Linked DNA regions of Homo sapiens. The protein of the gene in region 1 purifies or fractionates together with the protein of each later gene. This does not show direct contact. Each region holds a gene or a part of one and is shown on either strand. Other genes may lie near its edges. The genes, in order: ARHGEF1, CYFIP1, PIP5K1C, PTS, NUSAP1, ARHGEF2 and WBP11.

Region 1 (4,434 bases):
CCCACAGAACGGGAGAAAGTGGAGCTGGCAGCCGAGTGCTGCCGGGAAATTCTACACCACGTCAACCAAGCCGTGCGTGACATGGAGGACCTGCTGGTGAGCCTGGGCTGGCCCCACACCCGGGACAGTGGATGGTGTGAGAGCAGGGGGTGGACCCTACCTCAGCCTGTCCAGAAGTCACACCCCACCCCTTGGCTTGTCTCCCTCAAGGGTCACTGTGTCCAGGGGTTGGCTTGGCCCTCAGCATCTCCCTCTCAGGGTCATTGGAGGTCAGGCCCAACCCTCAGCTTGCCCGCATCAGAAGTTGGTCTTGGCTCTCATCTTACCAATGTGGGTCACTGCAGGTCAGCCCCAGCACTTAGCTTGTCCCCATAATGCTCCCGTCTCTGCCCCAGAGGCTCAAGGACTATCAGCGGCGCCTGGACTTGTCCCACCTTCGGCAGAGCAGCGACCCTATGCTGAGCGAGTTCAAGGTGTGACCATACCCTCCTGCCTCCCCCGCCCCCCTACTCCTTGGCCCAGGGGATTCTGTGATACAGCCCCCAGCCTGTCCTGCCCATCCCATAATACACCCAGGAAGCGAGAGCTCTGTCCCCCACCTCATGCCAATCCCATGATCCCCAGCCTGTGGTCATCCCCGGCCACTGCCCTGCCCTTCCCCTCCCCACCAACCCCAATCACCCCCTGCCAACCTGCACAAACCATCACCCCCTCCTGCCCCAGAACCTGGACATCACCAAGAAGAAATTGGTCCACGAGGGCCCACTGACGTGGCGGGTGACTAAGGACAAGGCAGTGGGTGAGTGCCAGAGCAGCTGCCTAGTGCAGGGTGTTGGGGCAGTGAGCCAAGGGCGGGGAGGGGGTCGCGCGGGGGCACGCCGTGTGAGCACTGCTCGCCCCGTAGAGGTGCATGTGCTGCTGCTGGACGACCTGCTGCTGCTGCTCCAGCGCCAGGACGAGCGGCTGCTGCTCAAGTCCCATAGCCGGACACTGACGCCCACGCCCGATGGCAAGACCATGCTGCGGCCCGTGCTGCGGCTCACCTCCGCCATGACCCGCGAGGTGGCCACCGGTGAGTGCAGCCACTGCATGGCCCAGGGCAGAGGGTGTCTTTTTTGGGCAGAGCTGCCTGTGGAGTGGGGAGCAGAACCCTCTAGAGAGCCAGGGAGCCAGCATTCTAGCAAAGAGGTTGAGAAGTAGGTGGAGGTGGGCAGGGCGGGGCCAGGCCTAGAGGGTTTATAAGTGAGGTAGGAACTGCTGCAGGTGTTTGCACAGAGGCGTGTCTTGTGTAAACAAGGAGAAGAAAGGCCAGGAGTCCAGTGAGGAGGGATTTGTAAACATACTACTAGGAAGTTGCACCAGGGCCACAAACACTGGAAGCGGCTGGAGGGTGGGAGTGGCTGGAGGGGTTTCGTTAGGTAAGCCAGGGTACATGCCCGATTCCATAAGGAGGTGTGAGAGGTGGGGCTCAGGAGGACACATCGGGCCCTGGATATTAGCAGACAGTGAGTGGTGAGTTGAGCCATGGGAGCCCTGAGAGCGCCACCACTGTGGGTGACTTCTCCAGCTTGTGCTTAGGGAGGGGCAGGCACTGGGGGGACCTGGGCTCTGAGCCCCATCTCCCCCTCTCCCTGCAGATCACAAAGCCTTCTACGTCCTTTTTACCTGGGACCAGGAGGCCCAGATATACGAGCTGGTGGCACAGACTGTGTCGGAGCGGAAAAAGTGAGGGGGGGTCTGAGTTCTGAGTGTGGGTGGAGGACGCCCAGGTTTCTGGGTTCCCAGGGACAGGAGGGCTGTGGGGAGGCCCTGGCATAGGGTCTGGGGGCTCTGACTGCCCAGGGATTTGGCCTTTCTCCCCAGCTGGTGTGCTCTCATCACTGAGACTGCCGGATCCCTGAAAGTCCCTGCCCCTGCCTCTCGCCCTAAGCCCCGGCCCAGCCCGAGCAGGTGAGGGGGGCCATGGAGAGAGCTGGAGGTTCAGGGAGTGGGGCCGGAAGGCGGGGCAGGCTTCCCTCCACAACTCCAGAACCGTCTCTGTGTGAGCATGCACATGTGTGAATGCATGTGTGTGCATACATGTGTGTCTGTACGCAAGTATGTGACTGTGCGTGCATATATAGTGTGTGTATGCATGCATGTGTGCGTGTGCATGTGTGTGCGTGTATGGTGTGTGTGTATGCATATGTGTGCATGCGTGTGACAGCATGTGCATGCATGTGTGTGTGTGTGCGCATGTGCCGACCCCACCACTGCCCCGTCTGTCTCCTGTCTCCAGGCCTCTGTGTCTTCCATTGTCTGGGCCTCTCTGTCTCCCTGTCTCCCGGCCTCGACCTCTGTCTCTGTCTCCGGACCTCCCTGCCTCCCCACCTCCAGCTCTCTGTCTCCCTGCCCCTGCGGCCCCCCAGGGCCAGGGGTGTGGGGTCACCCAGCACTTCCTCCCCTCAGCACCCGAGAACCCCTCCTCAGCAGCTCTGAGAACGGCAATGGTGGCCGAGAGACGTCTCCAGCTGATGGTGAGACCAGAGGGATGCTGGGTGAGGGGCCAGGTTGGGGCTGCCGGGTGAAGAGAGGCATCCACAGGAGGCCCGGCAGGATCTGAGCTCCCTCTCTGTTCCCCAATCCAGCCCGGACCGAGAGAATCCTCAGTGACCTCCTGCCCTTCTGCAGACCAGGCCCCGAGGGCCAGCTCGCTGCCACGGCCCTTCGGAAAGGTAGCCCAGCTCTGCCCCTCCAGGGTGGCCACCAGCCCAAACAGTGCCTCTGTTCCAACTAGAACAAGGCTCTCCACGTCAAAAATTTCCTTACGCCCAGCTGCCAGAAAACAAATGCTCCAAACCCACCCAGCCTGCACCACTGTCCTGGGTGCCCACGTCCCTCTTCTGCAGCCACCATCCCTTGCTTGATTCTATATTTAGCCTCTTCCTGAACACATCTCTGTCTTCAGTACCTTCCTGCCCTGTCCCAACCCTAAACCCAGCCTCACTTCTTCACCTCCCTTTGGATCCCCGAACCCCATCTGCTCAGCCTTGCCTGGCACCCACCTTCACCTCCAGCCCCTACACATCCCCTTTGGAATCCCCCATCCCAGATCCCAGCCCAGCCCCCTGGTCTCCTGACTCCACCCCTCCTTGCCCCTGGCCAGTGCTGTCCCTGAAGCAGCTTCTGTTTCCGGCGGAGGAAGACAATGGGGCGGGGCCTCCTCGAGATGGGGATGGGGTCCCAGGGGGCGGCCCCCTGAGCCCAGCACGGACCCAGGAAATCCAGGAGAACCTGCTCAGCTTGGAGGAGACCATGAAGCAGCTGGAGGTGGGGCGGGACGGGCCAGGGGTGCCCTGAGTGGGCTGGGGAAGGAAGGGGCCCCCCTCATCCATGACCCCCACCCCACCAGGAGTTGGAGGAGGAATTTTGCCGCCTGAGACCCCTCCTGTCTCAGCTTGGGGGGAACTCTGTCCCCCAGCCTGGCTGCACTTGAGGTTCCCGCCCAGGAAGGTGAGTGGGGCACCTGGGGGCCAGGGCGCTGTCCTGAAAGGAGGGTCCCCCTCCAGAGCTCGCATCCCTACAGCCCCTTCTGTCCATCTCCCTCTTTGTCTTTTCTGAATCTCCCCACTCCACCTCGTGTTTCTCATCTCTGTGTCTCTGTTTCTGATAATCTGTTTCTCTGTCTCTGTGCCCGCCTGCCTCTCCCCACCTCCCCTTCTCTCTCTGCTCTCCCTGTCTTGTCTCTGTGTCTGTCTCTCCCTGTCTCTCTCTCCATCTCTCCCCGTCTCCCCTCTTCTCCTACATCCCCCAGGCCTTTTGCAAGAAGGAGAGGAATGGGGGAGAGGACGTGAGGGACCACCCCCACCCACACAGCTGCCGCAGCATCTCACACCCCGAGGGCCTGAGGAGAGGGAGCTGTGGGCCACGCCTGGGAGGGGCCCAGCTGGGGTTACTGGCCCCGCATGAGCCTCGGCCATCTCTCCCTCCTGCCCTCTGCTTGGGGGACTCAGGGCTCCATTCTGGAGGGCACCACGGTGACCCGGGCCATCTCAGTATTGCCTGTGGGGGCCACCCCTCCACCCCCACCCCCAAGTGCCTTCGCTCTGTTTTTATACCCTGAATTGGAGGTTTATTTTTTAATATATATTATCTAAGAAGAGATCTGTGTGTGTGATGGCGGGGTGGGGCCTGGCATGGCGTCTGGAACTCTCTGTGACTGTCTGGCGTTGACATCCTGGGTCTGTGCCTCTGCGCCTCCCTCCAGTTGTTCATTCATTCATTCATTCATTTCTTTGTTTGAACCGTTACTCCCCAGGCACTCCGTACACACACTGGGTATGAGGCGTCTCCCTGACACCGCCCTCCAGCTCCCACCCCCGATCCCCCATGCTCAGCACTGGGCACCCCGAGTCTCACTCTCTGTTCTTTTATTTCTGTAGTAAACTCTCTGGA
Region 2 (4,434 bases), on another chromosome or scaffold:
GAGGCCCATGCCTGAAGGAGGCCTCCAAGCTGGTTCCAGCTCCTCACGCCACCCCAATGCTGTGCAACGAGCCATCAGAGGCTCTGCCCACACAAATGGCATGGCCATGCCACAGCCACAGAGAGTGGAAGGTGACTGCCCTTACCATCTCCTGGGCACCACAAGGGATGTGTGAGGACTGACGCACAAGGAACTCAGGGGCTTCCCACTCACGGTGCTCAGAAGACAGACCGGCTGGGCGGCTCCCCAGTCGCTCACCATGAGACACACCCTTTTCCAAACACTTTCCCTTCCATGAACTTTATATTTTGAAAGACTGCCCTTCCATCTAGGTCCACAGTCCTGATCCCCAGAACAAAGCTGTTCAATCAATACTTCCTTTCCCCACTTCATCTGGGTCAGAGGCTGTGTCACACAAAAGGCCAGGCCACAGGGCTCCCGCAAGGCAGCTCACGGGCATGGCCACCTCACAGGGCCTGCACTACGAAGGCCTGGGGAAGGTCCAGGTTCATCCATCTCCCTGGTCCAGGCTGAGTCCCCGGGTCCCAGCCAGCACCCATGCAAAGTAGGAACGTGACTGGTTCTAGTGCCTGAGCTCTCAATTCCAGTCTGACACCAAGAAACTGGTTAGTTACTTGTATTAATCTCTAAAGCTTTACCCCAGGAAACATGATTTCTCTTTTTTTTTTTTTTATTTGGAGACAGGGTCTTGCTACGTGGCCAGGCTGGAATGCAGTGGTGCAATCCATAGCTCAATGCAGCCACAAATTTCTGTGGTAAAGCAATCCTCCCGCATCAGCCACCACACCAGGCTAAGTTTTCTCATTTTTGTAGAGACTGGGGTCTTGCTATTTTGCCCAGGCCCAGAAACTTGATTTCAAATACAATACTAAAAACAGTCCCGGCCTCTCCGCCACCTCCTCTGAGGACCCCCGGTCACCACACACAAAGGCTGGAGACAGGCCCGCAGGACACGCACTCCATCATCGATGCCTCCTTGGTCTCCAGGATGTGGTCCGTCAGGATCCAGGGCATCGACATCTCAATGGGGAACTGGATCCTCCTGCCCATGGTCAGCTCCAGGAAGAACTCTCGGAACCACAGCTGCGAAAGGTCACAGCACTGCTGCAGCGTTTCTGGGAGGGTTCAAACAACTCCATGTTATCTCCCGCAAGCAAAAAAAAACCTTTAGCAGAGATGACACAAGGGCTGTGTGCTGGGTGCCTGCTCCTCCTCGCTCAGCCCCAAGCCATGCAGCATGGACATGAGTGGGGAGGGGTCACCGGGGCCTTGCACTAGGGACAGGACCAGCTGGGCATAGCTGCAGGTAAAGCCACCTCATCAACCCTGTGAGCCCTTCAGTGGGATCCAGGGGGAAAGTGTCTTTTTTTTTTTTTTGAGACAGAGTCTATCTCACTCTGTCACCCAGGCTGGAGGTGAGTGGCGCGATCATAGCTTACTGCAGCCTTCAACTCCTGGGCTCAAGCGATCCTCCTGCCTCAGCCTCCCAAGTAGCTGAGAACACAGGCACGTGCCACCAACTGATTTTGTATTTTTTATAGAGATGGGGGTCTCGCCATGTTGCCCAGGCTGGTCTCAAACTCCCGAATTCAAGTGATTCTCCTGCCTTGGCTTCCCAAAGTGTTAGGATTAACAGGTATGAGCCACTGTGTCTTACCTAAAAATGTTCTTCTCAAAAGGAGACATAAAAACAGGACTTCTGGCTGGGCACAGTGGCTCACGCCTGTAATCCTAGCACTTTGGGAGGCCGAGGCGGGTGGATCACAAGGTCAGGAGTTTGAGACCAGCCTGGCCAACATGGTAAAACCCCATCTCTACTAAAAATACAAAAATTAGCCAGGCGCAGTGGTGAGCACCTATAATCCCAGCTACTTGGGAGGCTGAGGGAGGAGAATCTCTTGAACCTGGGAGGCGGAGCTTGCAGTGAGCTGAGATCGCCCCACTGTACTCTAGCCTGGGTGACAGAGCAAGACTTCGTCTCAACAAAAAACAAAACAAAAAAACAGGACTTCTTCACTTTCACTTAGGATAAAAACCAATGTCCAGGCTGCAGCATTAGAGGCACACTCAGGGAGGTCTGTCTAACGCAAAAATGAGACAGATTAAAAGAGCCCACACTCGAACTCCATCCTTTCATGGAGTTAACAGCAAAAGTGGTACTATTTCCTCCAATACCTCGCAGCACCCCAGCCAAGACAGCAGGGATCCTGTTCTGAGCAAGAGGTGGACAACGGAGGACTTGATGAGAACACGGGACAGACACACGGAGGGCAGAGAGCGCACCCACCGGTGGCCGGTCAAGGTGGCCGGGTGTCACCCAGGATGGGCTTGCCTGGCACAGGGCACCCGCCACCTTCCCCCCACGTCATGGTCTGCAAGGGCCATTTCTAGTATTTATCAATGCCTGTGTCTCAACTCAGGCACCAGATTACATTCGCCTGTTTCCAACCCCGCATGGGTTGAAAAGATTTTCTGTTCATGTCTCAGGGCCAGCCCGGGCTCCTCAGTTTATACCCTTGTAGGGACCACGCCCTGTGGAGCGAGCTCAGGCCAGGGACGTACAGCCACCGCCACAGAGGGCAGGACGAGTCACCGTCTGGGTGCACCAAGGGACGGGGTAGGGGGTGGTCAGGCGGGCGGAAGCATTCTAGACGGTGTTAGTGGTGTTAGGACATGCCAGGCCGGATGCTGCTCAGCAGTATCTCTTACCACTGAAATTTATCAAGTGAGTGTAGAAGAATGACTCTCGATGAAATTTTTCTATGTCCAATATGGTGGGCCCCTCAAGGCTACTTCTCAAGGTTTTCTTGGAACCACTTTTGTCTGCAATGAGGGACTCTAGCATGGTTCTCACCATGTAAAGCTGGATTATCCAAGGAAACATTTGTGGGGGAGAAAATATACATGGTACATTAGTTATGCCAAACTCAAAAAGCCCATGAGAGAAGGACTGCTCCGCTACGCCCTGGTCGGGAGGGCCCCGCACCAGCTCCCCGAGGGGTCCGGGTGCCTGTCTACGCGGCCACGTTGCTGCTGCTTTGGGGAAAGAACAACTTGTAGCGGAGCAGTTCGCCTCCGTGCCATAAACGTCAAGAGAAACAAATGATGTCTTACCACCAAAGGTTAAAAGGGGTAGGTAGGTGCACGACTGCCTCAGAAACGTGTTAACCGCATGCAAGAGCCTCTCCATGCCCAGAGACTTGAGCTGCCTGAGCAGCTCGGCAGAGCCCAAGGACTCGGCCATGGTGCGCACCAGGTAGAGCTAGACACGGACAGACAGGAGGGAGAGGCAGGAGAGAGACGTTAGTCACTCGACACACACACCCCAGGCAGGGACACGGGACGCACGCAGAGGGAGGCAGGGAGGGTGGCTGGCACCACGCACAGGCCGAGGGCCGTCCCCCTGACCCTCCTGCAGAGCCAGCAGCGTGCATTGCTGGTGACTTTCCAGAAGAGTGGCAGAAGAGATTAAAAGCCTCCGGCAGAGATGAGGGAGAAGACCAGCCCCAGGACGGAGGACAGACGCAGCGGTGTGGATTAAACCGGGTGTGAAAGTCGTGAGAAGCACCTCGGGGAGGCCTGAACACACCAGGAGAGAGGACAGTGGGCAGCTTAGGACCATGACACACGCAAGCAGCACCTCACAGTTTCCCACGCCCCATCTACAGTCATTTGCAGACCCAACGTAAAAATTATACAGACATTCAAACACCCATCAAGAAACACAGAATGAATACAGACACGTGGACTTGTGCCCACATTTTTGGGATGGGAGTTGAAATGGAGTCAGACTCCTTTTTAGTGCACATGACACATCTGACAATCAAGGCACGTCTCCTCACGCTCCCAACTCACTTGGGTGGGAAACAGAGGAGCAGCAGAAACCACAGGCGCCACTTTCTCTGCCTGAGCAGGCAGCGAGGACCTCATTTAACCCGGGCCTCACCAGCCCCACCCGCTCACAGCTCAGGGTGGGTCCCCCCAGGGAGAGGGTGCAGGCGGGGCTCAAGGGACGAGAACCTGAGTGCTGGAGGGTCCCACGGCGCGGCGTGGTACTTTTATGTCGAAGCCGCTCTTGGGGTCCTTCTCGCCCCGCAAGGCTGGGTCATTGAAGGGCTCATGCCCCGTCTCCCAGTCACACACGGTCTTCCTGATGGCCTGCAGGACACTGAACACCCCACCAAGTGATCAGCAAGGCCCAGAGGCCGAGACCTCCAGCCTCACAATCACACCATCTCCTCACCCAACTACAAGGCTCTCAGAACAGCCCCCATGAAAATACAAATTACTCTGGGGGCCATGGAGGGATGTGGTAATGGACCAGCTCAACAGGAAAGTTAAAAAGGAGTCTGCCTTCTGGAGAGTATTACTACCCCCAGAAGACTGCCCTGAGCTCCAGTTCGCATCTGTTAG
Region 3 (4,434 bases), about 38 Mb from region 1:
GCCCCGAGTCCCAGCTCTGCGGGATGCTGATGGTACCCTCGGCCTCTCTCCCCAGGATGGGCGGGATCCCCGCTGTGAACGGCCGCGGGGAGCGGCTGCTGCTGCACATTGGCATCATCGACATCCTGCAGTCCTACAGGTGGGTGCCCGGGTCTGCAGTCCTACAGGTGGACGCCCCGGGTCTGCAGTCCCACAGGTGGGCGCCCGGGTCTGCAGCCCCACAGGTGGGCGCCCGGGTCTGCAGCCCCACAGGTGGGCGCCTGGGTCTGCAGTCCCACAGGTGGATGGGCGCCCCCAGGACACCCATGCACAGAGGCGCTTGCCCGTGGAAACAGCCGCACCAGCAGCTCTCGGGGCTTCCTCAACCTGGAAAGCTCTTGCTTGGCTGCCCCTTCTTGAGCCCTAAAGGGAAGGTGTTTGGTCGCCTTGAAAATCTAGAGTGAGTTGGGCGTAGTGGTCCACACCTGTAATCTAGCACTGTGGGAGGCCGAGGCGGGAGGATTGCTTGAGCCCAGGAGTTTGAGACCAGCCTGGGCAACATAGCAAGACCCCATCTCTACAAAATATCAAAAAATTAGCTGAGCGTGGTGGTGCTCCTGCAGTCCCAGCTACTTGGGAGGCCGAGGCAGGAGGATTCCTTGGGCCCAGGAGTCTGGGGCTGCAGCAGTGAGCTATGATGGCCGTACTGCACCCCAGGCTGGGTGACAGAGCAAGACCCTGTCCCAAAAAAAAAGAAAAAAGAAAATCCAAGGAGTGGGTTTGAGGCCTCACTTTGGGGCTCGAATATTTGTTTTTTGGTTTTTCATTTGTTTGTTTTAAGACAAAGTCTCGCTCTGTCACTCAGGCCGAAGAGCATTGGTGCGATCTTGGCTCACTGCAACCTCTGCCTTCTGAGTCGACCCTATTCTCCTGCCCCAGCCTCCCCAGTAGCTGGGATTACTGGCACGCGCCAGCACGCCCGGCTAATTTTTGTATTTTTAGTAGAGATGGGGTTTCACCATGTTGGCCAGGCTGGTCTTGAACTCCTGATCTCAGGTGATCTGCCTGCCTTGGCCTCCCAAAGTGCTGGGATTACAGGTGTGAGCCACCGTGCTCAGCTGGGGCTCTAGAATGTTTAAAAACAGTCACCCCCTCGGTACTATGGACATTGGGACCAGATGGTTCTCTGGGGTGGGGCCGTCCTGGGCCCTGCAGGGTACTGAGCAGAGAGCCTCCACCCACTCCCTGCCAGGAGCACCTGCCACCCTGAGTTTTGACAGCCACGACTGCTTGAGGCCATGGCCCAGTGTCCTGGGGGGTGCACAGTGGCCCCTGAGTGAGGTGGCCTGGCATGGGCTTGGCTGATGTCAGCTGCCACTCCGGGTGCTCTCTCCACAGGTTCATCAAGAAACTGGAGCACACCTGGAAGGCCCTCGTCCACGATGGGGTGAGCGCCTGCACCCTCCTCCCATTCCTCCTCCCATCCCTCCTCCTCCTGTGAGTGCCTGCACCCTCCTCCCATCCCTCCTCCCTCTGTGAGTGCCTGCACCCTCCTCCCATCCCTCCTCCCATCCCTCCTCCTCCTGTGAGTGCCTGCACCCTCCTCCCATCCCTCCTCTGTGAGTGCCTGCACCCTCCTCCCATCCCTCCTCTGTGAGTGCCTGCACCCTCCCCCCATCCCTCCTCCCTCTGTGAGCGCCTGCACCCTCCTCCCATCCCTCCTCCCTCTGTGAGCACCTGCACCCCTCCTCCCATCCCTCCTCCCTCTGTGAGCGCCTGCACCCTCCTCCCATCCTTCCTCCCTGTGAGCGCCTGCACCCCTCCTCCCATCCCTCCTCCCTCTGTGAGTGCCTGCACCCCTCCTCCCATCCTTCCTCCCTCTGTCCTCCTGTCTGTCGTCCCAGCCTTCCTCCCATCCGTCACTCCACAAACGCAGAGTACCGCCTGGGGCCAGGCACTGAGGACTAACGTCTGTGTGACCACAGCCTGTAGAATCCAAGATCCCAACAGGCACCCCCATTTTTCAAAAGAGCGTGTAGAAGGTCCAGGCAGGAGCTTCCAGAATAAGCCTTGAGCGGGTCAGGATGGCAGCTGGCAGAGGCCTCTGGGGATGTCTTAAACCTTGCCAAGGCCCGGAACCTGCTGCCCAGGGCAGATAGGAGCGCTGTCTCGGCTCTGACGAGGCTGGCCAGGGTGTCCTGTGCTGCCGCCGCATGTCCCTGGGGTTGTCCTTGTCCCCTGGCCCAGAGTGGCCGGGCACCACCTCCCACTGCAGCCTGCGGGGGTGGAGTCGTTCACAGTCCTGGTACGTGGCCACTCCTCACCCAAGGAGGCTGGGAAAGGAGGTTGCATTCTGGGAGGCCGAGATCACATCCCAGCAGGGCCCCAGCCAGGCCATCCTGCCTCAGCCTCCCCTACAAGTCCACGTGGGCCACTGTGCCTGGCCGGAATACTTTATTCAGCTGGTTTAAAAAGTCAAAAATGCTAACAGGTCTCTAGTGGAAAAGCCTCCACCCATTCCCTGGCACCCAGTCTCCCTCCCCAGAGGGAGCCACTGTTCCCTGTTCCGTGAGCCCCTCCCAGGAAGCCATGGCGCCATGGACCCATCTCGAGCCTTTTCACACAGAAGGTGCCCCCCACACACATACAGCGTCTGTCTGGGGCTGTCCCCAGCTGTTGATTGATGCACCCTCTGCCCCCGGGCACCCCCCCCAACTCTCTTCCAGGACACGGTGTCCGTCCACCGCCCCAGCTTCTATGCCGAGCGCTTTTTCAAGTTCATGAGCAACACGGTCTTTCGGAAGAACTCCTGTAAGCCACCTGAGCCCCGCAAGGCGGGAGGGACCCTGGGGAAGGCCCAGAGCGCCGTGGGGCAGGAGGGACTCTGCGGGAGGCCGAGAGCCCCCTGGGCAGGGCAGTAAACTCAGAGCCCCTGTGCCCCCCTCAGACCGGGCCTCATCCGGAGGTAGGGTAGTCGGGATATTTGCTCTGCACAGCGGTAGAGCACGGGTCTGGAGCCACCGCCAGAGCCTGAATCCTAGCCTGGCCTCGTCCTGCCCATGTGGCCTTGAGCAGGCACCTGCCTCTGTGCCTTGGTTTCCCCATTGGCACAGCACTGTGAGGGTACAGTGTTTATATATGGGATGGGTGGGCCTGACTCAGCAGATAGCTCACAGTGTGTGGGGCTGCCCACAGCATCACCATCGCCAAGGAAACGCACCCCGGGCAGGGGAACGCAGGAGGCTAGCCCAGCAGGGCATGGTCGGGAAGGTCCCAGGGCAAACAGTGGTGGGGAAGGTGGGGACTCGGGATTCACCCACAGGGTGCCCGGGGGAGGTCCCCATCTCTCAGGGCTCAGCTTCCCCTCATGGGCCACTGTAGCATCTGGACGCAGACTCTGGGTTCCAGGCCCCTGTGCAGACCTCAGCCCGTGGCCAACCTGCTGCCAGATGGATTCCCCCCTGGGGTCTGTTTCTCAGCCACCCTCCCCACCAGAAGGCTCCCGGGCTCCCCAGCATCCTGCACAGGCCTGGCCCACAGAGATGCTTGGGAAGTGTCTGGTGGGGGGCATGAATGATCTGCGGGTCCGCACCCACGGGGGTTGCAGGGAGGTGGCAGGGACAGGCACGCCAGTGCCCAGCGCTTGCAGGCAGGCTGCTCTTCCCGGCCTGCACACTTGCTCACGGCCTCGAGGTCAGGGACCCCCTCTCATCAACACCGTGGGAATTGGCAGACACCACGTGTCAGGATCTGTCTCCAGAGAGCCAGCCGTTGAGCCTGTCCCCACACCCCACTCTCTGGGACCGATGCCACAGGATCATTCCGTCATCCAGGGCTGTTTGCCAGCCTTTGGTGATTGTAGGAAGCTGCACAAGGCAAACTGAGCACCTACTGTTTACCAGGAGCTGTGTGGGTCATTCTGGGGGCAGAGGTCACAAGAGCTTGGTGAGGAGGCAGAGCTCACACAGCACTGAGGACAGGCCTGGCCCTGTGCGGGACATCACCTGCCCCACCTCACCCCACCGCTAAGGTCGGCCCCCAGGGCCCAGAGAGACCGAGCCGCACAGCCAGCGGGTGAGCCTGGATCTGCGCTCAGGCCCTACATGCTGAGCCACAGGCTTCTCTAACCACAACACCTGGTGCTCCCCAAGGCTGTCAGTGTCCATCTGAAAGTGGGGGCCCTGCCCGGGCTGGGCCGCACATAGAAGGGGTTGAAGCCTGCAGGCATCCCTGGCCAGCTCATTAGATGGGAGTCACTGGTCTGCAGGATCCCAGGAGGGGCAGGCACTGTGCCAGGTCCCAGTGTGTCTCATAGAGACAGTCGGGTGGGCAGGACAGGGAACTCGGGCTCGCAGTCCCTCCCCAGGCAGACCCCGGTTTTCCACCAAGAGGTTGTGGTGCTTCCTGGCCTCAGGGACCGGTAGGGGTCTGGTGGGCCACAGGGACGTGGGGTAT
Region 4 (3,457 bases), on another chromosome or scaffold:
TGTAGCCCACAGAGTGTATACATTACTTTTTCTAGGAGGTGAAGAATATTATTAAATAACTGTTGATTTAATAAATGAGTAGAAGAATGAGTGAATGAAGAAACAGCACTATGCTCAAAATACTTTAGGAAAGTTATACAGATAGGGCCAGCATGCATTTATGGGGCAGGGGTTGGGGGGCAGGCGGAGAGAGAGAGAGAGGGAGACAGAGACAGGAGAAGAGGAGGGGGAGGGGAGGACAGGGGAGGAGAGGGGAGGGGAAAGAAAGAAAAAGAAAAAGAGAAAAGAAAAGAAAAGAAAGAAAAGAGACAAGACAGCAACATAAAAGGCCTCAACATATGACTAAATACTGGAGGAGGGCTTCTCTATGCTGTTTTCTGCTTTTGTATGCCTGAAGGACACCACACACTTTCATCAGTAAAAGTGGCTTATCATGGCATGTAGAGTAAAGTTAGAGCTCTACCGTGGGGGGAGGATTGCTTGAGTCCAGGAGTTCAAGGCTGCAGTGAGCTATGATTATGCCACTTGCACTCCAGCCTGGATGACAGAGACCCTGTCTCTAAAAACAAAACAAAAGAAAACAAAAAGCCCTGCATAAGAGGCTTTAATGGAGAAATTGGGACTGGAACTGGGATTGAAGATGAAGCAAGGATGCCCGTTTTCTTGTTATTCATGTGGAACATCCCTTCATTGGATATATTTCAATAACTGTTTGATCTAGGACTTACTCTTTTTGTATGATTCTAGTTTTTCTCAAGAAATGATTGCTGTTACTGTTATTAATGTACCCTTCTTCAAACTACGTCCTATGGAAAATTACATTTTTTTTTCACAGATGCTTAGATTTTTTGCAATAGCTAAAAGCAAAAACCTAGAAAGAATGAGGCAATTTAATCCTTGCTGATGATGAGGAAAAACATTATGTTAATATACACGAGCATTAGGGAGTAATAGTCTTTACATATATATATTTTTCCTTCTATGAGCCCAAGATCATTCTTAAATTATTCCTCATAGCAAAAATTTAGAACTACTTACATAATTTCAGTCTAGGTCTGCTTTATAAAATGTAGTAGTCACTGGATCTTTGTCCTTATGATATTGTGGCATTGTTCCGTAGGTGTGACAGTGTTATGGAAAAATATTTGTGCTAACTGTTTGGACAGGATTCACAAAGTGTTAAACTGAATTCTGAATTACAATGGCTTGTGTTGCGAGAAAGCTCCAGGAATTCTCTGCTTTTTGGTTTCTCACCTCTTTTTATTCAGTAACAAGGATTCCTAATCATTACCGACAGCTGGGCCTGACTTTATTTTACAACTTGAAATTTTGTAAAGTTGCCTTGTAAGACTCAAATCTAGTACTTACAAATATTTAGTTAGTGGCTAAGTGATAAGGTGAGGTTTAGAGGCATAAGTGGAACAATTTGGAATTTGAGTCGTAAATGGAGTCAATGATATTTTCCCTTGGTTTTGTCTCTAGGAGGCGATTATGCAGCCCCTTGATCATAAGAATCTGGATATGGATGTGCCATACTTTGCAGATGTGGTGAGGTGGGTGGCACTGTATCTTGCCTTATGTGGATTGTAAAACAAGAATTGATTTGAATACTTTGATTGTTGTGTGATTTCTGAAGTTTTAATTTAATGAAATCTTTCGAAACTAGAATTTCTATTTTCTGTAAATATTAAACATGAAATTTTATTGTTTGCATTTTGAATTTTTTTTGTTTTTGTTTTTTTTTCTTATAGCACGACTGAAAATGTAGCTGTTTATATCTGGGACAACCTCCAGAAAGTTCTTCCTGTAGGAGTTCTTTATAAAGTAAAAGTATACGAAACTGACAATAATATTGTGGTTTATAAAGGAGAATAGCTATTGGGGTTAGCATTGCACAAAGCCCAGTTTCTTTCTGTGTTTGAAAAAGATTTTGATCCCCTTGGAATATTAAGAGGTCAACACGTGATTGTTGTACGTACACATTGTGCTCTGGAGTGCCTATTTATTGAAATCATTGTAAGACCTGTTATAAATTTAAGTCTATTTAAAACTAAACTTGTAATATACATCCTGAAAATCATTTAGAGAGTCTTTTATTTATAAATTAAAAATCACTTCATTTTCACAAAATGTTTTGGTGTGGGATTATTTGAAAGCAAAAGAAATCTAATTTTGTTTTCTCCATTACCTCATTTTAGTATTAATTTTTACTTGGTATAATATACATGGTTAAAATGCTTATGTGACTTCGAGTAGGTGAATCTTAAAGAAATAAAATTCAAGTGACCACAAAGTCTGGAGACAATATATATATGTATATTTAATAGATTGAACTCTCTTGATTACTACTTGTTGGGTGTGCTGAAGGCATAAGTGGATTCAGTGAAAATTAGACACACAAATCATGTGAGGCATCTGTTGTGGATACACGTACAAATATTGATGGAAATGCTGCTTTAGAGCACATCATTCATTACAATTTTGCACAGCGTATTGAACTATGAATTGCTAGTGAGGAACAACACATTAAACATATCATGGAATATCAGTAAATTATTCAGTATACTCCTCTGAATTTCTGAACCTGATGGGCACTTGAATAATTTCAACTCAGAAGACTGCAGAATAATCATATTTTAAACTCTAAAAAATAGTCAGCATAAAAAGGATCAACTACCATATAAAATATTTCCTGTATATAGTTTTTCCTAATTGATCCCATTTTGTTCTGATTATTAAACTTACTATATGCTTGGCATTCTTCTCTGGGATCTTTTCCTCGTGACTAAATCCACAAGAAAGTATTTGCTTACTTTGCACGGAAGACTGTTCTGTGTTCTTGTTTGTTTTCTAAATGTCTTAAACGCAGGGTTCTGATTTTCTCTCCACATAGCAACTAGTATACAATGAATTCCCAGAATGTTGTTGCCTGAAAATAGTAAAAGGACTTTTGCAGTGATTACTATTCTAGAAAAACTTGCAAAGAATAGTCTTTTCTAGTGATTGCAGAAATATAAAGTTTGACAGTAATGCAAATGGCCACTGAATTATATTTGAATGTATTTTAGTTATCAAACAATTTGTTCTCTATGTAGAATGTTTTGTATTGATTACTTGAAAGGCAGATAGCTGTTATTTATTAAGACACTTTATGTTTTAATTCACACAAATACCCTGCAAGGTAGGTATTCTCATTCTTTAGGTAAGATAATTAAAGTTGAGAGAGTTTAAACTATTTGCTTTAGATCATTCAGCAAATAAATTGCAAACTGGATGTTTAACATTCAGGGTCTTTCTGACTCCAAAACACAGACTCTGAAAAGGGACAATTTGAATATTTCCAGATTTTTTGAGAGTCTGATCTTACTTATTTGTTATTCAATTTAATTTTTTTTTTTTTTTTTGAGACCGAGTCTTGCTCTGTCACCAGGCTGGAGTGCAGTGGCACGATCTCGGC
Region 5 (4,434 bases), on another chromosome or scaffold:
CAAAATTAGCCGGGCATGGTGGCGCATGCCTGTAATCATAGCTACTGGGGAGGCTGAGGCAGTAGAATCGCTTGAACCTGGGAGGCAGAGGTTGCAGTGACCCAACATCGCACCATTGCACTCCAGCCTGGGCGACCGAGCAAAACTCCATCTCAAAAAAAAAAAAAAAAAAAAAAATTAGCCAGGCGCAGTGGCACATACCCATAGTCCCAGCCACTCGGGAGGCTGAGGCAGGAGGATGGCTTGAGCCTAGGAGGCAGAGGTTATAGCAAGCTGAGATCATACCACTGCATGCCAGCCTGGGTAATAGAGCCAGAACCTGTCTCAAGAAAAAACACTACCAATTAACTATTGACATCTTATGAATTGTAAAAACACATCCCAATTTCAGAGATGTTAAAATGTAGAAAAAATACTATCAGTCAATCAATCAAATACATTTGTGGCAATTTGCCATATGTAAAGAATGGTAAAGAATGGGCTTATTTCTCTACCACACAAATGAATGACATTCTTTTAGGAACATACAAGACCTGTTCTCACCACTCACCTAGCATAGCAGTCTTCTGCTACCTGTGACTTCCCCTAACCTGGAGGAGGAGGAGGAGGAGGAGGAAGGGGAGCTTTTGGCTTGCCTCTTGGACTATAATGAGGCCTCCACACCTATTCCTCCATCACCATCATTGTCCAAGGCAGGGAGAGCAGAAAAGACAAGAACATATTTTACAAATAATGTTAGTTGATATGTGATTTAATTTAGCATTAGCCTTTTAGGAATATGTCTCTTCTGCAAAAGAGGTTCGTTCCTATGACAATTATTAATTGAGGCCCTTTTCACTGCTTGCTAATAGTCAAGTGGTTTTATTTATAAGCTAGACACAAGTTACTCTTGCCACAGTACTCATGTCTTGTACTCTGCTGTCCTATTTAGGTTTTCAGCTGCTACTAAAGATAATGAGCATAAGCGTTCACTGACCAAGACTCCAGCCAGAAAGTCTGCACATGTGACCGTGTCTGGGGGCACCCCAAAAGGCGAGGCTGTGCTTGGGACACACAAATTAAAGACCATCACGGGGAATTCTGCTGCTGGTAAAAAAAAAAAAAAACAAAAGAAATCTGTTTCATTTTTAAGCCATGTAACTTCCCAAAATGATTAGGTATATCTGTTTTTTTTGTTTGTTTGTTTTTTTCTGAGATGGAGTTTCGCTTTTGTCACCCAGGCTAGAGTGTAATGGCGGGATCTCGGCTCACTGCAACCTCTGCCTCCCAGGTTCAAGCAATTCTCCTGCCTCAGCCTCCTGAGTAGCTGGGACTACAGACACATGCCACCATGCCCGGCTAATTTTGTATTTTTAATAGAGACAGTTTCACCATGTTGGTCAGGCTGGTCTCAAACTCCTGACCTCAGGTGATCCGCCCGCCTCGGCCTACCAAAGTGCTGGGATTACAAGCGTGAGCCACTGCGCCCGGCCTGTATCTGTTTCCTTAAACCCTTTCCATTTCTATAATCAAAAGCAAAAATTTTACCATAGTGTATTTTTAATTGTGTACTAGTGGGGGAAATGCCAGAGACATAAGCAAAAACCAGATATCTGCCTGAGAGCTCCATCTAATCCTAAAATGGTGACCCTCCAGGAAGGGCACTGTGCCCCTTGTGGGACTCAGGGATTCGGAGGATGAGCACAGTATTCGTTGCAGCCTCGGAAAGGTCCTGGAGGACTCTGACACTAACAGGATCCCAGACCACAGACTTCATGTTTCAAGATTCAACCATGTTGACTCGTTTTCACAGTATTTTTCAGTGGTGTGGGTATATGTCAGTTTATCTATTTTACTATTCACGAACATGTGGGTGGTTCCAGCTTCCATTATTATATATGATGTTGCTATGAATACTCTTAAACATGTCTCCTGTACATGTGCAAGAGTTTCCCTAGACCTAGGAGCAGGACAGCTGGATTGGAAAATATGCAGACATTTACTGTCCTGAATGAATTGTACCAATCTGTGCTTCCAGTGGCAGTGTATGGCAGTCCCTTGTTCTACTCCCTGTCAGCATTTGATACTGATACAGTGGGATAGCTTGAACACAGGGTTTTGTGCTTTTTTTTAACTAAGTGGTCTTAGATCCTGATTGCTGTTTCACAGATGTAGGCAAGGGTTCACATTTGGCAATGACCTGTGGCTTCCCCCTATGAAAAGAAAGGATTGGCCGGACGCAGTGGCTCTTGCCTGTAATCCCAGCACTTAGGGAGGCCGAGGTGGGTGGATCACTTGAGGTCAGAATTTCAAGACCAGCCTGGCCAACATGGTGAAACCCCAACTCTACTAAAAATACAAAAATTAGCCGGGCATGGTGGCATGCACCTATCATCCCAACTACTCAAGAGGCTGAGGTAGGAGAATCGCTTGAACCAGGAAGCAGAGGTTGCAGTGAGCCGAGATTGTGCCACTGCACTCCAGCCAGCCTGGGCAACACAGTGAAACCCTGTCTCAAAAAAAAAAAGAGATTGGGAGAGAAAGGATTAACTGATGGCCAACTGTAGCAAAAAGGCTAACTAAACTACACCATCCTTAGGCTGGGCATGGTGGCATGGAGACCAACCTGGCCAACATGGCAAAACCTCGTCTCTACTAAAAATACGAAAATTAGCCGGGCGTGGTGGCACGCGCCTGTAATCCCAGCTACTCACTTGAGAATCACTTGAACCCAGGAGGCAGAGGTTGCACTGAGCTGAGATCACATCACTGTACTCCAGCCTGGGAGACAGAGCAAGACTCCGTCTCAAAAAAATTAAAAAAAACTACACCATCCTGGATATTTTTAACTTCGTGGTGCAAAAATTCATATTCTTTTTTTTTTTTTTTTTTTGAGACGGAGTCTCACTCTATCACCCAGGCTGGAGTGCAGTGGCACCATCTTGGCTCACTGCAACCTCCGCCTCCTGGGTTCACGCCATTCTCCTGCCTCAGCCTCCCGAGTAGCTGGGACTACAAGTGCCCGCCACCACGCCCGGCTAATTTTTGTATTTTTGGTAGAGACAGGGTGTCACCGTATTGGCCAGGTTGGTCTTGAACTCCTGACCTCGTGATCCGCTCACCTCGGCCTGCCAAAGTGCTGGGATTACAGGCATGAGCCACCGCGCCCAGCCAAAAATTAATATTCTGAAGTGATAAGAGCCCTTATTAATAATATTCCTGACTTTAAACAATCCTCCTGCCTCAGCCTCCCAAAGTGCTGAGATTACAGGTGTGAGCCATATCTGTTATCAGGGAAATAAGCTGAAAAGTTACCGTCATTTCCTTCAACAGAATTCTAAACTCCCAGCTGATCCTAGGATCCCAGCACTTTGGGAGGCCAAGGCAGGTGGATCATGAGTTCAGGAGATTGAGACCATCCTGGCTAACACACTGAAACCCCGTCTCTACTAAAAATACAAAAACAAAATATTCAGAACATTTACAAAGCTGCTTAGCAAAGGAAATTAATCTCAATGGTTAGCTTTCCTCAATTATTGTTTTCCCCTTTTCTCCATTTTAACCCTTATTTCAGACTTTCATCTATTTCAGACTATTCATGTAGATTGTCTTAGTCCTTTGCGGCTGCTATTATATAACAAAGCACCAAAGACTGTATCTTATAAACAGCGGTAATTTCTTTCTCATAGTTCTGGAGGCTGGATGAGGGCAGATCAGGGCACTAGCATGATTCTGGTGAGGGCTGTTTTCCAGGTAGCAGACTACCAACTTCTTGTTGTATGCTCATGTGGCAGAAAGAGAGCTAGAGAAAATTCTATGGGGTCCCTATATAAGGCCCTGAATCCCATTCATGACCTATTTACCTCCCAAAGGCCCTACTTCCTTACACCAGTCATATTGACAGTTAGGATTTCAATATGAATTTGGGATCGCAGGAGATACAAACATTCAAGCTATAACTTTTTTCTTTTTTTGAGACACAGTCTCACTGTCGCCAGGCTGGAGTGCTGTGGTGCAATCTCGGCTCGCTGCAACCTCCGACTCCCTGGTTCAAGGGATTCTCCTGCCTCAGCTTCCTGAGTAGCTGGGATTTTGGGCACACGCTGCCACGCCTAGCTAATTTTTGTATTTTAGTAGACACGGAGTTTCACTATGTTGGCCAGGATGGTCTCGCTCTCTTGACCTCATGATCCACCTGCCTCGGCCTCCCAAAGTGCTGGGATTACAGTCGTGAGCCACTGCACCCAGCTTCTTTTTTTTCTTTGTTTGTTTCTTTTGTTTTTTTGAGATGGAGTCCCACCCTGTTGCCCAGGCTGGAGTGCAATGGCGCAATCTTGGCTCACTGCAAGCTCCACCTCCCGGGTTCAAGTGATTCTCCTACCTCAGCCTCCCGAGTAGCTGGGATTACAGGCACGTGCCACCACACCTAGCTAATTTTTTTTTTTTCCCTCTCTG
Region 6 (4,434 bases), on another chromosome or scaffold:
GGGTGGGGTGGGGGGTGACAGAGGAACTGGGTGGAAAGCTGCCAGCCTTGCAGCTGGCTCTGCCTGTCTTCCTGCGCAGAGCTGGGCATTCAGGACTTCACAGTCCCCTTGCCCCTTTCTTTCTATTGACTATGGGTGGAGCCTGAAATCTCTGCTGTTTCAAGCAGAAGATGTGATTAGGACCCTTCATCTCAAATTTCTAGTGAGAAAGAGGGAATGTAGCAGGGATGTGTGTGTTGAGGGGCAGGGGTTAGAATTCCTGCCCTTCATCCACATCTGAGTGTAGTCCTGTCTTTAGGGAGTATAAGCCAGGAATTCTTTCCTTCCCCAGTACACAGAGGGCTCCTGCTGCCCCCTCTCCCTCAATTCCTCCTGAAGTTATGGCAGAGATGCCTCTGATTAGAGCAGGATTGAAGGTATTGTGACCTGCTACTGAATAGCGGACAAAAGCTCTAGCCTGTAAATCCCTATGAAACTTGGGGAAGGAACCCCCAGAAAGGACCAGTGATGGGCAACCCGCTCGGGTCCCCTTCTACGCTGTGGGAGCTTTGTCATTTTGCTCTTCACAATAAAGCTTGCTACCGCTCAAAAAAAAAAAAAAAAAGAAAGAAAAGAAAACCAGTGAAGCCTCCCTACTTTCCTCACTGTTCAATTTAGAGTTGTGAGGATGAGGAGGGAACCCCAATCTAGATCCCTATAGAGACCTGACAAAATTCCCAATCCGGAAGCTTGTTGCCAGGGGAACAGGGGAGGCGGGCAGCACTATTTTGAGAGCAGGTGGAAAGCGGAGGTTCAATCCAGAGACACTGAGTGTTGGGGGTAGGAGAAGGGAGCTCCAGGGGGGTGGGGGCAGCTGCAACCCCCACTTCTGTCTGCCCCCTCTGCTCCACCCTGTTTGCCTTGTATTTGTGGAAGTGAGCGTGGTGCTGGGTATTGTCTGAAAGAGTTAGCAGAGTTTCCGGTGTTGTTGGATGGGGGAGGGGAAGCTGGAGAGGGCCGGGAGCTGAGGGCATGTCTGGGAAGGGCACGGCCAGGGTCCCAGTGCCTAGGCTCAGCGAATCCTCCTTTCTTCTTCTCTCCTACCCCATGGCAAGGTGGGGTGGAGGATGGCGGAGAAGCAGATGGAGTGTGGGAGCTGTGGATTTGCCTGAGTTGGGGGAACAGGACTCCCTGGGCCTGGAAGGGAGAAGGCCAGGCTTGGTGGGGAGTTGCCTGTCCCTTCTTTACCACTGGAGCCATCAATCAGCCTTGGAGCTGCTGAGGCCCAGCCAGAGTCCAGGGCATGTGGTGCGAGGGAAGGAGCACGGCCTTTGGATTCAGGCCCACCGGAGTGTAAACACCACCTCTCCCACTAGCCGTGTGACCTCTGATGGACGATTTAGCCACTCCAGGACAGGTTCCTCATACATGAAATGAGGATAACTGAACCTCCCTCTACGGGTGGTTAGGATTAAGTAAATGTGGAACATTTACTATTATAAAAGCTCAGGGAATGTAAATTTCCCCTCTGCCCCTAGCCCCCATTCTGGCTGCCTCTGTGCCATCTTCTGTTCTGTGGGAGTCCTCTCTTCCATCTGCCATTCGCAACCACCTTCGTGCTTCTTGAGCTCATCTCTGGCAGCCAGTGACCCCTGCTCCCCTCTGGTCCGCCCTTCAGGCCACCTTGGGGTCAGGATTGCCCATCCCACTTGATTGTTTAATTTCATTCAGCACCTATACCCCCCTCACTTCATTTCCTGCTTGAAGGAAGAGGGAGGTGGGAGGAGAGGGACTGGGGTGTGGTAATGGCCCAGAAGTCGGGGAAGGGGGGAGAGTCCCCGAGGACTGTGTGGCCAGGAGGAGATGGGTGTCTGCATGTGGGTGTGTCCCCTCCTGTACCACCCGGCCCTCCCTTCACCCTCTCTACCCCACCCTCCCAGCCTGCAATGTGACTATCCACAACCGCTGTAAAGACACCCTCGCCAACTGTACCAAGGTCAAGCAGAAGGTGAGACGGCAGGGAGGGCAGAGGGCTGGGGGAGAGGGTAGTGAGTGTGCGGTACCCTCATGCCTTTTCCATTCATTCCCTACCCTGTGTTTCTCACCACCCACCTCCTCACCAAGGGGCAGCCCAGACCCTCAACCCCAGGCCTCGGGCCCCAAGTAGGCCAGGCCTGTTGCTGCAGACATGTCCCCACAGCACTGGGCTCAATCACCCTGATCCCCTTAACCATAGTGCCAGCTTTCTCCTAAGGGGGCCGGCCACCTAGCTCCTGTCCCATGCCTCTGGGGGTGATCCTTGGGTGACAGCCATTCTTGGTATCTCTCTCCTGCTCTCTGTCTCACAGCAACAGAAAGCGGCCCTGCTGAAGAACAACACCGCCTTGCAGTCCGTTTCTCTTCGAAGTAAGAGTGAGTAGTTGGGGAGTGGAGGAGGTCCCCTAAGACCCTGGACCCCAGGCTGCTCAACCCATGGGCTCTGCTGCCCCACTAAGGTTGTTCCCAGGCATAGCACCTTCCTCTTCTTGATTGGAAGCAGATAGTGGGGGCCTAAGGGAGGGTTCGGACTCTTGGACTTAGAGGCAGAAGGGGAGAGAGAGTCCGAATGGGGATGAGGGCTGGGGATGGGTGGTCGCCTGAGCCTGGCCGCAGCCTGCATTTTTATCAGTTATTTACACTGCATTTCGGGAGTGTTGGTAGCAGCTGTCAAGTGTCAATTCAGACAGCTTTGGTGTAACAGAAAGAGCATGGCCCTTAGGTATAAAGAGCAGAGCCTCAGTCCCTGCCTAGCCATTACCCAAGTCACCCTGGACAAGTCTTTTTGTCTTTCTGAGCTCCTGTTTGTTTATAGGCTTATGTCAGGGAGGAGATAAGTAAGAAAAAGCTCTTTGTGAACATTAGAGTATGGCACAAATGTAAGGTGGCATTCTCATTACCATCTTTCTTGACTAGAGGGGCTGAGGTGGAGTGAGAGGATGCCTCATTCCTCATTGAGGAGCCTAGGAGGCCTCAATCCTGGGAAGCACCAGAGTCTGATGTTTGCCTGCTGGGCATCTCTCCCCCACAGCAACCATCCGGGAGCGGCCAAGCTCGGCCATCTACCCCTCCGACAGCTTCCGGCAGTCCCTCCTGGGCTCCCGCCGTGGCCGCTCCTCCTTGTCTTTAGCCAAGAGTGTTTCTACCACCAACATTGCTGGGTGAGCCTCTGTTTGGGGAAAGGGGCAGCCAGAGAGTGTGGCAGTGGAGGCCAAGGGGGTGCTGAGAGGTCCCTTTCCATCCCTGAGTTCAGAACTGTAGACAGACAAATAAGGAGAACTTAGGGGGACCGCCTCTTGGATCCTGGCTTTGGTTCCCTACCTGGGAAGGGATCTTTTGCCCGACTGGGGGTGATGCAGACAGCCTCCACTTTCTTCAGACATTTCAATGATGAGTCTCCCCTGGGGCTGCGCCGGATCCTCTCACAGTCCACAGACTCCCTCAACATGCGGAACCGAACCCTATCCGTGGAATCCCTCATTGACGAAGGTGAGCAGGCCTGGGCCCAGGGGAGCCCTGAGGAACATGAAGAGGGGCTGGGGGATGAGAGGCTGGTGGGAGTAGCCTGGAAGGACAAGGAGGGAAGGGATCTAGAGAAGGGCCAGGGACCCAGGGAAGGGAACTCAAGACCTCTGAGTTGCTTGCCCTGCTAATGTCCAGCAGAGGTAATCTACAGTGAGCTGATGAGTGACTTTGAGATGGATGAGAAGGACTTTGCAGCTGACTCTTGGAGTCTTGCTGTGGACAGCAGCTTCCTGCAGCAGCATAAAAAGGAGGTGATGAAGCAGCAAGATGTCATCTATGGTAAGCCAAGACCACCCTAGTCTTCCTCTTCCTTCACCAGGTCCTGTTTATCTACTTCCTTCTTTATTTTTCTTTTTCTTTTTTTTTTTTTTTTTGAGATGGAGTCTCACTCTCTCAACCAGGCTGAAGTGCAGTGGCATGATCTCGGCTCACTGCAGCCTCCACCTCCCAGGTTCAAGCGATTCTCATTACAGGCGCCTGCCACCATGCTGGCTAAGTTTTGCATTTTTAGTAGAGACGGGGTTTCACCATGTTAGCCAGGCTGGTTTCAAACTCCTGACCTCAGGTGATCTGCCCGCCTCAGCCTCCCAAAGTGCTGGGATTACAGGCGTGAGCCACCGTACCCGGCTGTGTCCTTCTTTCTACCAGCCCCTACCTCTCAAAACCCTTTCCCTCTTGGCCTACAAGACCCTGCCTGGTATCCCACAGGTTGCCCACTAGGTCCCTACCTCTTGATGCTGTTGGTCTCCAACACCCTCTCTTTATCCCTTCTTTATCTCTGTCTTCAGTCTTTACTCTGTGCTTGTTCCACGCTTAACACCGTGCTGGAGACTGTGGGAAGCCTCGACATGTAGAAGACATATGGTTCTTACCCTAAAATAGCTCACAGCTTGA
Region 7 (4,434 bases), on another chromosome or scaffold:
AAATATGCAAAGAAATTAGTACCCGTATTTTATTTTTCAAATTTGATTGACTTGCAAAGTAGAATTGGCTGAAATCTTTCTTTTTATATTGGAAATTTTGAGCAAATTAGTTTTGCGAGCCCTTGTTTCGCGTTTTATGTTATGTTTTTCCTTCAGATTCATAGTTGTTTTTTATGAAACATTAAACAAAAATGTCTTGACATTTTTGGTTGTCATAATTAGAGGGATGCTCTTGGCATGTAGTGGAGAGAATCCAAAGATGCTGCTCTTTTACAGTGCATACTGTAACTTTCCACAATAAAGAATTACCTGTATTAAATTGGAGGAAATGCTAATGTTCAAGATTCAAAGATTTTATTATATCTCCCTCTCTCCTTTTAAAGGAAAGGAAGCCCGGAAGAGAGAATTAAAGAAGGTATGATTTTAGAGGCATCTTATAAAACTTTAAGTATTGTTTGGTACATCTTGTGATTTGGGATTAGTGGGTTTCAGAATAACATTTCTAATATTTTCTAGAAAAGGTACTTTATGCTTTTTATAAAAACTGTAAGATATACTAAGCCAAACTTTATTTAGGAACTGAAGTAACTTTGCAGAGAAGCTCACTACAGGTTATAATGCCATTGTTTGATTACTTTTCCCAGTGAGTTAAAAAATACTTTTGAAAATAATTCTTTTTTTTACTCATTAAAACATAACTGTTTTAAAGTCTACTGATGAGGATGGAAATAAACATGATGCTAGATAGCTTTATCCATTTTCCTGATTAGCTGTCTATTACATATATTACATTAGCTTAAATATATATATGTAGGTTTATAATATTTATAGATATATTAGATTTATATATCCATTTTCCCAATTAGCATTCTCCTCTTAGCTGTTGAATTTGTGGCAAAGTACTTCAAAAGAATTAGAAAGGATTTGCCTTATAGTATTGTGCTTTATAGTATTATAGTATAATACATTGAAGCAACACAGATTTTAAATAATGTTCGATTGTGTTTTCATGTTTAGCATTAACTCCTGCAAAATTTTTAAATATTCTTTATATAATTTTAGAATTTAGCTTCAACCTTTGCTTTGGACTTCAACTAGCAGAGGTTTTACAACAGGGGGCAGGAACAATCACCCAAGGTCTTCAAGAACATAAGGGGTTAAAAAAAAGAAATTTAAAGTGTATGTGTGTTTAAGTAACTGCTAAAGATCTCAGAGTTCAAAGAAATACTTTACTAAGAAAGCACATCTTAAAAATAGCATTTCTTTATCTTTTTGACAAGTGTAAACATTTTTAAGGCAAAAAATTACATAGCTGTTTCTGGTGGTTGAAACAAGTGATCAGAAGCCAAGGAGTTATTCTGTTTAGATTCTTAAAGCAAGTTGAAGTAAAACTCCTGAGTGCCTGACTTCTTGACATCTGCCCTTTTATTTTTCTAAGAACAAAAAACAGCGCATGATGGTTCGAGCTGCAGTTTTAAAGATGAAGGATCCAAAACAGATAATCCGAGACATGGAGAAATTGGATGAAATGGGTAAGAATTTACAAACAGGCAGCTATAACAGTCTGACACGTACAGAGGCAGGCAGGTAACGAGTGAAGCAGCATAGGCGTAAGTAAAACAGAACAGCATGATGGCATTTGATGCTTGGATTTAATGTTAGTTTCAGGGAGACAAAATGGAGTGCTAGAGGGCTGTTGCAAACTGGAGACCCCAGATACCAGAATAAGAGGGAAGCGATTATTTGGCTTTCAGTTAATTGTTATTGTGAGATAACAGAAGCACAGTTTGGCCAGCTTGCTTTTTGGGAGAAGACTTAATCTGATTTATGAAATAACCTTGGGTTTTTTGTTTGTCGTCTTTTATTTAATGTTGGCAACTACCATGTAAATCTAAGTATTAGGCCCCTGTGAATATAAGGCAATTTCCAATTTTTCCAATCAGAAGATCCAAAAAGATACTTATCCATTTAGTAAGGATATAGAAAAAAATCATCAAATACCTAAAAACCAAATAATAAAATACTATACCAGGATTCTCTGCCTTTTTCACATTTTATAGAATAGTTTTATTCACTCTTCATATGCATTTTAAGTATCGCTGCTTTGTTATAACTGGAATCACATGAAATAGCTGCATGTTATCTTTTTTTGCATCTAAGTTTGAAAATCATTGATGTTGCCACTGGAAATTTTATCCTAACCCACAAATATCCATTCTGTTTAATATTAGAACATGTAGAATATTTTGTTTTTTTAATAGAAATTTTCAAACATGCAAGAAAATAAAATAGTCTAGTTAACTTCCATGTGCTTTTCACCTGTCAAGTTTCTGCCACTTTGTCTTCTACCCTTTGCCACTTTTGTAAAATAGCATTTTAAAGTGATCGTTACAAGTTCCATGTTTTGCCCAAAAACAGAGTAGTAAGTAAAAGAGATGGAATGAAACTCCTCAATGATACATTAAATGGGGTACAAAAAAAAAATTCAGTCATGGCATTAGGCTATTACAAGGTTTCTGAAATAATGTGGGAGAATCTGTGCAGCTAGCCTGGCTAAGAGTTCTGGGTCAGGCTTCAGGATCCCAGATATTTCCCAGTTCAGTTGTAACTGATTCCACTTCCTGCCTCTGGTCTAAATATCAGCAGGGATAATTACTTTCCTTGGGGAATCAGGGAATCCTTCTTTAAATGACCCCAAATGTTATGTGTTGTTTTAAAAGGAGATAATAGGAATAACTGAGGTTTCTTGAGTAGTTGTCTTGCTATACACCTACGCACCAGTTTTTTTCCACCAGTTTTCTAATCGTCACAATTTTTTAGGGTAGGTGCACTGTCCCTATTATACAGGTAAGAAAACTCAGGCATGGAGAGATTACATAGCTTTCCTCAAGGTCACACTGCTATGTAGTGGCAAAGCTGAGATTAAAACTCAGGCATTCAGCGCTTTTACTAATCACACTAGGATTAGTATGGTGTAAGAATACGCCCTCTGGATTTGAATAAATTGCCAAGATTAATAATAGTTAATAGGATTTAAGGAAGAAGATAAATTTGTTATTCTTTTAAGAAAAAGGAAAGGGGTGAAGAGAATACTATTCATCAGGGGTCTAGTTACAATTTATAAAACTCAATACAGACTAGTTAAGGCAGAAAAAAGCATGCATTGGCTGTCTTAATTAAGAAGTCTTAACATAAAAAAAAGATGAGAAATCCCTGAGAGAAACTAGCCTCAAAATCCAGTCTCATCATCAGTACTGTCCATCTGTCTAGTCTGATGTCTGTTAGCCTCATTCAGCTTACTACTAATGAACTCCTTGGGATAGAAGGTGGAATATATGTGTGTAATTAGTGATGATTGAGAGACAAGGCCACAGGCAGCTCTAGGTTTGTTTTCTCTCTACATAACACATTCAGAAAGAAAATCTGAGAGCTTATCTCTCTCACATCTACATTTAAAATCTCAGGGAATGTTCTGGTCCCAGTTTGGATCATGTGCTAATTGATCTCTGAGTCATTCACTGAAAAGGAAGATGGGGGGATATGATTGACCAGGCAGGCCTGGAGGTCTTATTCTTGGGATAGAGGACCTGCAGTTAAGCCCCATATTGACACATGATTAGTTAGGGAGAGAAAGGATTGTATAGTAGCTAGGCCAGGAATACGGATCTGTTATAAAGATTATAGTTAAGTGGTGAGTCAAACACCACTGGATATTTTATTTGTAATCCCATTGTATCATCATAGCTTTATTACAAAGTGATTAACGTCTCCATTTTTTAGATGAGGAAGCAAAAAATCAGAGAATTCAAGTAAAATGCTTAAGATCTCAAAATTTGACAGGACTAACGTAGTAGGTAAACACAAATCTGACAGAATCTTCACGAGGTTTTCAGCACAGAGCAGTGAAAATTGATTTTTATTACAATGAAGATGAAAGTCAATTAGGTGGCATTTCTGAGAAAGGTAAAATTAGTGGCCATCTAAAAAGGGTGGGGATTTTAATAAATATTGTAGTTCTTCGAATAAAATTGAAAAGAGTATGTCTGGTGTCTAGATCTCTTAAAAATTTTTTAGCATATATGGAGGTTTTTATCATGTAACCTATTGATACCTAATTGAAGTGGCCTCTTATATTTAATTCCATAATCTACTTTTTCTCTTAGAGTTTAACCCAGTGCAACAGCCACAATTAAATGAGAAAGTACTGAAAGACAAGCGTAAAAAGCTGCGTGAAACCTTTGAACGTATTCTACGACTCTATGAAAAAGAGAATCCAGATATTTACAAAGAATTGAGAAAGCTAGAAGTAGAATATGAACAGAAGAGGGCTCAACTTAGCCAATATTTTGATGCTGTCAAGGTAATCAAGGTTTTTTTTTTGAGAGATAAACTAAAATATTATACAGATTGAGTATCCCTTATGCAAAGTGCTTG

What was found.
Region 2: the proteins of ARHGEF1 (region 1) and CYFIP1 fractionate together in Homo sapiens (co-fractionation; one large-scale study listed by BioGRID). This does not show direct contact.
Region 3: the proteins of ARHGEF1 (region 1) and PIP5K1C purify together in Homo sapiens (affinity purification with mass spectrometry; one large-scale study listed by BioGRID and IntAct). This does not show direct contact.
Region 4: the proteins of ARHGEF1 (region 1) and PTS purify together in Homo sapiens (affinity purification with mass spectrometry; one large-scale study listed by BioGRID and IntAct). This does not show direct contact.
Region 5: the proteins of ARHGEF1 (region 1) and NUSAP1 fractionate together in Homo sapiens (co-fractionation; one large-scale study listed by BioGRID). This does not show direct contact.
Region 6: the proteins of ARHGEF1 (region 1) and ARHGEF2 fractionate together in Homo sapiens (co-fractionation; one large-scale study listed by BioGRID). This does not show direct contact.
Region 7: the proteins of ARHGEF1 (region 1) and WBP11 purify together in Homo sapiens (affinity purification with mass spectrometry; one large-scale study listed by BioGRID and IntAct). This does not show direct contact.

The regions. Positions count from the first base shown.
Region 1 is NC_000019.10:41,903,312-41,907,745, forward strand, and holds the end of ARHGEF1 (rho guanine nucleotide exchange factor 1), read left to right. Parts: coding exon 1-96; intron 97-344; coding exon of another isoform or gene 345-362; exon of another isoform or gene 363-395; coding exon 396-473; exon of another isoform or gene 474-475; intron 476-723; coding exon 724-799; intron 800-904; coding exon 905-1,072; intron 1,073-1,637; coding exon 1,638-1,725; intron 1,726-1,863; coding exon 1,864-1,950; intron 1,951-2,448; coding exon 2,449-2,516; intron 2,517-2,627; coding exon 2,628-2,714; intron 2,715-3,145; coding exon 3,146-3,309; intron 3,310-3,391; coding exon 3,392-3,475; coding exon of another isoform or gene 3,476-3,492; exon of another isoform or gene 3,493-3,497; intron 3,498-3,793; coding exon of another isoform or gene 3,794-4,102; 3' UTR 4,103-4,141; downstream 4,142-4,434. UniProt on the Homo sapiens protein: Seems to play a role in the regulation of RhoA GTPase by guanine nucleotide-binding alpha-12 (GNA12) and alpha-13 (GNA13) subunits. Acts as a GTPase-activating protein (GAP) for GNA12 and GNA13, and as guanine nucleotide exchange factor (GEF) for RhoA GTPase.
Region 2 is NC_000015.10:22,913,747-22,918,180, forward strand, and holds part of CYFIP1 (cytoplasmic FMR1-interacting protein 1), read right to left. Parts: intron 4,190-4,434; coding exon 4,042-4,189; intron 3,568-4,041; exon of another isoform or gene 3,266-3,567; coding exon of another isoform or gene 2,885-3,265; coding exon 2,731-2,884; intron 1,137-2,730; coding exon 980-1,136; intron 1-979. UniProt on the Homo sapiens protein: Component of the CYFIP1-EIF4E-FMR1 complex which binds to the mRNA cap and mediates translational repression. In the CYFIP1-EIF4E-FMR1 complex this subunit is an adapter between EIF4E and FMR1.
Region 3 is NC_000019.10:3,644,330-3,648,763, reverse strand, and holds part of PIP5K1C (phosphatidylinositol 4-phosphate 5-kinase type-1 gamma), read left to right. Parts: intron 1-55; coding exon 56-139; intron 140-1,377; coding exon 1,378-1,426; intron 1,427-2,705; coding exon 2,706-2,790; intron 2,791-4,434. UniProt on the Homo sapiens protein: Catalyzes the phosphorylation of phosphatidylinositol 4-phosphate (PtdIns(4)P/PI4P) to form phosphatidylinositol 4,5-bisphosphate (PtdIns(4,5)P2/PIP2), a lipid second messenger that regulates several cellular processes such as signal transduction, vesicle trafficking, actin cytoskeleton dynamics, cell adhesion, and cell motility.
Region 4 is NC_000011.10:112,231,681-112,235,137, forward strand, and holds the end of PTS (6-pyruvoyl tetrahydrobiopterin synthase), read left to right. Parts: intron 1-1,482; coding exon 1,483-1,553; intron 1,554-1,751; coding exon 1,752-1,875; 3' UTR 1,876-2,293; downstream 2,294-3,457. UniProt on the Homo sapiens protein: Involved in the biosynthesis of tetrahydrobiopterin, an essential cofactor of aromatic amino acid hydroxylases. Catalyzes the transformation of 7,8-dihydroneopterin triphosphate into 6-pyruvoyl tetrahydropterin.
Region 5 is NC_000015.10:41,370,596-41,375,029, forward strand, and holds part of NUSAP1 (nucleolar and spindle-associated protein 1), read left to right. Parts: intron 1-931; coding exon 932-1,089; intron 1,090-4,434. UniProt on the Homo sapiens protein: Microtubule-associated protein with the capacity to bundle and stabilize microtubules. May associate with chromosomes and promote the organization of mitotic spindle microtubules around them.
Region 6 is NC_000001.11:155,964,373-155,968,806, reverse strand, and holds part of ARHGEF2 (rho guanine nucleotide exchange factor 2), read left to right. Parts: intron 1-1,919; coding exon 1,920-1,987; intron 1,988-2,327; coding exon 2,328-2,391; intron 2,392-3,046; coding exon 3,047-3,176; intron 3,177-3,394; coding exon 3,395-3,504; intron 3,505-3,675; coding exon 3,676-3,819; intron 3,820-4,434. UniProt on the Homo sapiens protein: Activates Rho-GTPases by promoting the exchange of GDP for GTP.
Region 7 is NC_000012.12:14,796,733-14,801,166, reverse strand, and holds part of WBP11 (WW domain-binding protein 11), read left to right. Parts: intron 1-383; coding exon 384-415; intron 416-1,438; coding exon 1,439-1,532; intron 1,533-4,163; coding exon 4,164-4,360; intron 4,361-4,434. UniProt on the Homo sapiens protein: Activates pre-mRNA splicing. May inhibit PP1 phosphatase activity.